Regions from separate parts of the Homo sapiens genome. Here region 2 is linked to region 1. A link means that fine-mapping ties the variant in region 1 to the expression of a gene that starts in the linked region. Tissue or cell type: whole blood. Region 1 holds a variant in brackets; the other region holds the start of a gene. All regions are shown on one strand. Distances are from middle to middle.

Region 1 (2,764 bases):
CTGGATTCTTGTATGGTCTTAAATGTCTCCCTACAGATTGCTTATTTGATGCAAAGGAAAAAACAACAATGATGTGTCTTAGTCTGTTGGGGCTGCTCTAACAAAAATACCATAGACTGTTTAGCTTATAAACAAAGGAAATTTATTTTTCACAGTTCTGGAGGCTGAGAAGTCCAAGATCAAGGCACTAGGGGATTATCATGTAAGGGTCCACTTTCTCATACATAGCATCTTCTTGCCGTGTCCTCAAATGGTGGAAGAGGCGAACAAGCTCCCTTGGGCCTCTTTTACAAGGGCACTAATTCCATTATAAGGATGGAGCTGCCAGGCGTGGTGGCTCACACCTGTAATTCCACCACTTTGGGAGGCTGAGGCAGGCGGATCACGAGGTCAGGAGTTCGAGACCAACCTGACCAACATGTTGAAACCCCATCTCTACTAAAAATCCAAAAATTTGCCAGGCATGGTGGTGCACACCTGTAATCCCAGCTCAGGAGGCTGAGGCAGGAGAATCGCTTGAACCCGGGAGACGGAGGTTGCAGTGAGCCGAGATCACGTCACTGCACTCCAACCTGGGCGACAGAGCGAGACTCCGTCTCAAAAAAAAAAAAAAAGAAAACAGAAAAAAAAAAAGGATGGAGCCTTTATGATCTAATCATCTCCCAAAGGCCCCACTTGGGGGGTTAGATTTCAACATATGAACTTTGAGGGGGGACACAACATTCTTTCTGTCTTAGTCTGTTTGTACTGCTATAGCACAATACCTGAGACTAGGTAATTTATAAAGAACAGAAATTTATTTTCTCACAGTTCTGAAGGCTGAGGGGGAGAAACACTATGTCCTTACATGGCAGAAGGCCAAGAGAACCACACTCTGTGTGAAGCCTCTTTTATAAGGGCCTTAATCTCATTCATGAGGGAAGGCGCCTCATAACCTAATCACTTATTAAAGGCCCCATCTCTTAATACTATCACACTGGCCATTAAGTTTCAACACCTGAGTTTGGGAGGGGACACATTCAAACCATAGCATGGACTATAGTATGATACATGGCAAATTCCAACAATACCTTACCAGGAGATCAAAATTAACATCCCCAGTGAGGGGCAGAAGAACATCGTGTAACTCAGATAT[G/A]ATACTTTGATAAGGACACACCTCATACGTTACCTTCCAGGAAGGAATGCATAACCTGAATCTAATCATAGGGAAATATCAGACAACCCCCTATTAATAAAACTGAGTGTGGGTGGAACTATAGTCTTCAAAAAGACAATGTCCTGAGACAAAGAAAGGCTGTAGCTACGTTTCAGATTAAAGGAGAATAGGCTGGGCACAGTGGCTTAGGCCTGTGATCCCAGCACTTTGGGAGGCCAAGGCAGGCAGATCACTTGAGCCCAGGAGTTCAAGGCCAGCCTGACCAACTTGGCAAAACCCTGTCTCCACTAAAAATACAAAAATGAGCTGGATGTGGTGGCACATACCTGTAGTCCCAGCTACTCAGGAGGCTGAGGTGGGAGGATCACTTGAGCCTAGGAGGTTGAGGCAGCAATGAGCAGAAATCGTGCCAAGCATTGCTTAAGTTCAGGAGTTCGAGACCAGCCTGGCCAGCATGGTGAAACCCTGTCTCTACTGAAAATACGAAAATTAGTCAGGAGTGGTAGCAGGGGCTGTAGTCCCGGCTACTTAGGAGGCTGAGGCAGGAGAATTGCTTGAACCTGGGAGATGGAGGTTGCAGTGAGCTGAGATCTCCCAACTACACTCCAGCCTGGGTGACAGAGCAAGACTCCATCTCAAAAAACAAAAAAAAACAGACGTTATTGGATCAATTGATGAAATTGGAAACAGATGGAGGATTAGATAAAAGTATTGTATCAATGTTAAATTTACTGGTTGATAACTGGACTGTGGTTATGTAAGATAGTATCTCTATCCTTAGGAAATTCACACTGAAGTATTTAGAGATAAAGTGCCACAATATGTATAATTTATTCTCAAATGGTTCAGAAAAATGTTTGTGTATGTGAGTGTGTGTGTTGAGGTCAGGATGGGCATAGGGAGTAAATGAAGCAAATGGGATAAAATGTTAACAAAAGGGGGATCTTGGTAAAGGACATATGGATGCTCTTTGTACCGTCCTTATTCTTGTAACTTTTCTGTAGTCTTGAATTTATTCCCAAACAAAATGTTTTTTATTATTTTTTATTTTTTTGAGGCAGAGTCTCCCTCTCTCCCATGCTGGAGTACAGTGGTACAATCTTGGCTTACTGCAACCTCCACCTCCCAGGTTCAAGCAATTCTCGTGCCTCAGCCTCCCAAGTAGCTGGGACCTACAGGTGTACACCACAATGCCTGGCTAATTTTTGTATTTTTAGTAGAGATAAGGTTTTGCCATGTTGGCCAGGCTGGTATCGTACCCCTGACCTCAAGTGATCCACCTGCCTCATAGACACTGCGCCCAGCCCATTATTTATATACATATATATAATTATAAAAGGAATTATAACCCACTGGAGAAAATAAAAATCCGTAATGCATACAGATAATAAATAAATAGGCCGGGCACAGTGGCTTACGACTGTAATCCCAGCACTTTGGGAGGCTGAAGCAGGTGAATCACGAGGTCAGGAGATCAAGACCATCCTGGCTAACATGATGAAACCCCGTCTCTACTAAAAATACAAAAGATTAGCCAGACGTGGTGGTATGAGCCTGTAGTCCCAGCTACTTGGGAGGATGAGGCAGGAGAATCACTTGAACCTCTGA
Region 2 (2,622 bases), 460 kb after region 1:
GTCAAAACAGTCCTTCGGGCTCACAAATTTAATGATTTATATGGTATAACTGGCTTTAGATACAAATTTACATGCCAGACAAGCAATGTAGAAAAATCAAGAACTAGGAAACAGGAAAACAGATCTACATTTCTGCTTTGCTGCAATTCATTCATTTTTTTCAACCATTCATCAAATATTTATTGAGAGCCCATGCTGTGAGAGAAACTGTATTAGGTGCTGGGGAACATGGTAGCAAATAAGAGAGACCATGTATGTGAGCATGAGCAGGTGGCTTAACCTCTCCACATCTCTAACCTCTTTTAGACTCAATGTCTGAGGTATCTTTCAGACCTGAAATGCTAAGGTTTGCAACAGCCTTGTGGAGGGAGAAGCTGCCAAGTCGCCTTGGGACTTGAGGACTTACCTTCCTTTCAAAGGATTAGCCCTTGTTTTGATTTCAAAATAATTTTGTTACACAGTTTAAAAATAATTTGGTCAGGCTCTCATCTACATTGGGGTAATCTTGACGGTCTGGATGTGGTAATTCATGCTCATTAGACTTCAAAGGTAGGAAGTCAAAGTTGGGAAATGGTGGATGACTTTCATCAATTCATAGCCAGGCAGCGGTTCCCATTGAGCAGCTCCTCTGTGGTTCCACCCAGCCTTCCAACCAATAACGCAGCGTCTCCTGCAGGAAACTCATCGCTTGGGTCACCTGTTGCTCTTTGCTCTAATGAGCCTTGAGAAAGGATTGCTGGTCATGGGACCAGAGGCTTTATGGGGAGGGAAGAACTGTTCTTGACTTTCAGTTTTTCGAGCGGGTTTCAAGGTAACAACTTTCTTATTATCTAGCTTCATAATTGCAGTAAGGAATAGCTTTTTTTGCTTGCAGCTGAGATGACTTTTTCAAGGGAGAAAAAGGGATTTCTATAACGAAGAGAGGGAGAGAGAGATGAAGAGGGAGGGAGTAAGGGAGAGAGGGAAGAAGGGAGAAAGAGAGAGAGATTTGAATATACATTGCTTCAAGGATGCAAAAAATTACAACCTGGAAAAGGCTTCGAGTAACTTTAGGAAAATGAGCTGCTGGACTCCTCAGTCAATCTGTCCTTTCTAGTCAATGAAAAAGACAGGGTTTGAGGTTCCTTCCGAAACGGGGCCGGCTAATTTAGCCCCTCCCACGAGCCCAAGGGTCTGTTATATCTCTGTTTCCTTGAGGACCTCTCTCACGGAGACGGACCACAGCAAGCAGAGGCTGGGGGGGGGAAAGACGAGGAAAGAGGAGGAAAACAAAAGCTGCTACTTATGGAAGATACAAAGGGTAAGACCAAAATTGATTTGATCTGAATCCTTAAGAAAAAAAAAATAGAAGGAAAAATAAAAGCCCAGACCAAAAAGCAAGTACTTGAAAGCTGGAGGCAAAAAGCCCTGAATGAACTTTCCCACCCTCTTCCTTCTGAGAGGAGGCAGAGAAAGAGCTTTGGGAAACTTTTTAGGAAGCAGAGTCCAGGGTTGCAGTCAAGGGTGGCTCTAGAGCAAGCTGGAGGGGCTCATGAATATTCATTATCAATTTGTATTCAGAGTTGGTTTTTTTAGAGGCAAATGACTTTTTCAGTCCCCTTGCAGTTTAAGAGGCAGCTGCCTCATCTGCAGTCCGGACTCATCTAGCCTCGGGTCTGTACCTCAGGGTGTTTGCTTGAAGATGCTGGGCTCTGCGTGTAGATTTGTTTTGTTCTCGAATTTCTTGCATGCTTTCCTGTTGTGAAATTAGCAAAGGCTTCTTTGCTGGGAACAAGACAGAGAAGTTAATGTGGCACAAGGCTGTCACAACAGGACCCCAGAGTATGTCTTTCAAAATGCTGAAAGTTTCTTGAGATATGTGGGGGAGTTTTATGTGGGGGACAGAGTGGGGGACGGGGACGGGTAGAGGGAGGAAATAGAATAATTCTATCTTAAAAGGGCAGGTCACATCTGACTACATTTAGATTTTGTCTAAAAACTACAAGAGCAGCCTGGTTTGCACAGATGGTGTGCAGTCTCTATCTTTTACCTCTTTTGGGCATTTTCTGCCAAGACGGAGAGCCAGCTGCTTGCCAGCGTGTGAGAGCCAGGAAGAATCTCTGCAGCAGTGAGGGAGTATAGGGTTGTAAACCTCCTTCTCCTCCTTCTTTATCATCTCTAACTTCTAACATTCCCACATGCTTATACCGTATAGAACATGGAAGAATAGCATGAGTAGCCAACATATTTCTTAATACTTACAATAATGATAGCTGTTAATGTTGACTAAGTCTTTATTCTGTGTTGGGAGCTATACCTAGCATATTACATGTGCTACTTACTTGTCACATGAACCTTACAAGTGCTATCATTGACATTCCCATTTTCCAGATGGCATAATTGAGGTACTGAGAGGATAACTTGCCTTGAGATCTCATAGTTAGTAAGGGCTGAGTGTGGATGGAGGTGGTCTGAGGCAGGGCTGGTGGGCTTTTCCACTCCCCAATACTGTTTCTCTGCTTTTTCTGGTGCCCTGACATTGTGGATTTCAGGTTTGCAAATCCTTGAAGCTACTGGGGAAGTGATACTGGTAAAATCTTAAGTCTGTGAAGGAATTTGTACTTTGCACTCAAGTTCACATAC

The links. PIP is the estimated chance that this variant, and not a neighbour inherited with it, causes the effect.
Region 2: it holds the start of ENTPD1, and the variant in region 1 is fine-mapped to the expression of ENTPD1 in whole blood (INTERVAL, PIP above 0.99).

The regions. Positions count from the first base shown.
Region 1 is chr10:95,299,356-95,302,119 of GRCh38, forward strand. No RefSeq gene overlaps it. Among named protein-coding and RNA genes, the nearest start is that of PDLIM1, 9.7 kb to the left of the region's middle. The variant G/A (reference allele first, on the strand shown) is at 1,136.
Region 2 is chr10:95,754,956-95,757,577 of GRCh38, forward strand. It overlaps ENTPD1 (ectonucleoside triphosphate diphosphohydrolase 1), which reads left to right and starts at 1,208. Exons shown (of 10, transcript NM_001776.6): 1 at 1,208-1,300. The coding sequence starts at 1,285. It overlaps ENTPD1-AS1 (ENTPD1 antisense RNA 1), which reads right to left. Exons shown (of 6, transcript NR_038444.1): 6 at 1-1,759. RefSeq lists an enhancer at 769-1,068 and a silencer at 2,399-2,458.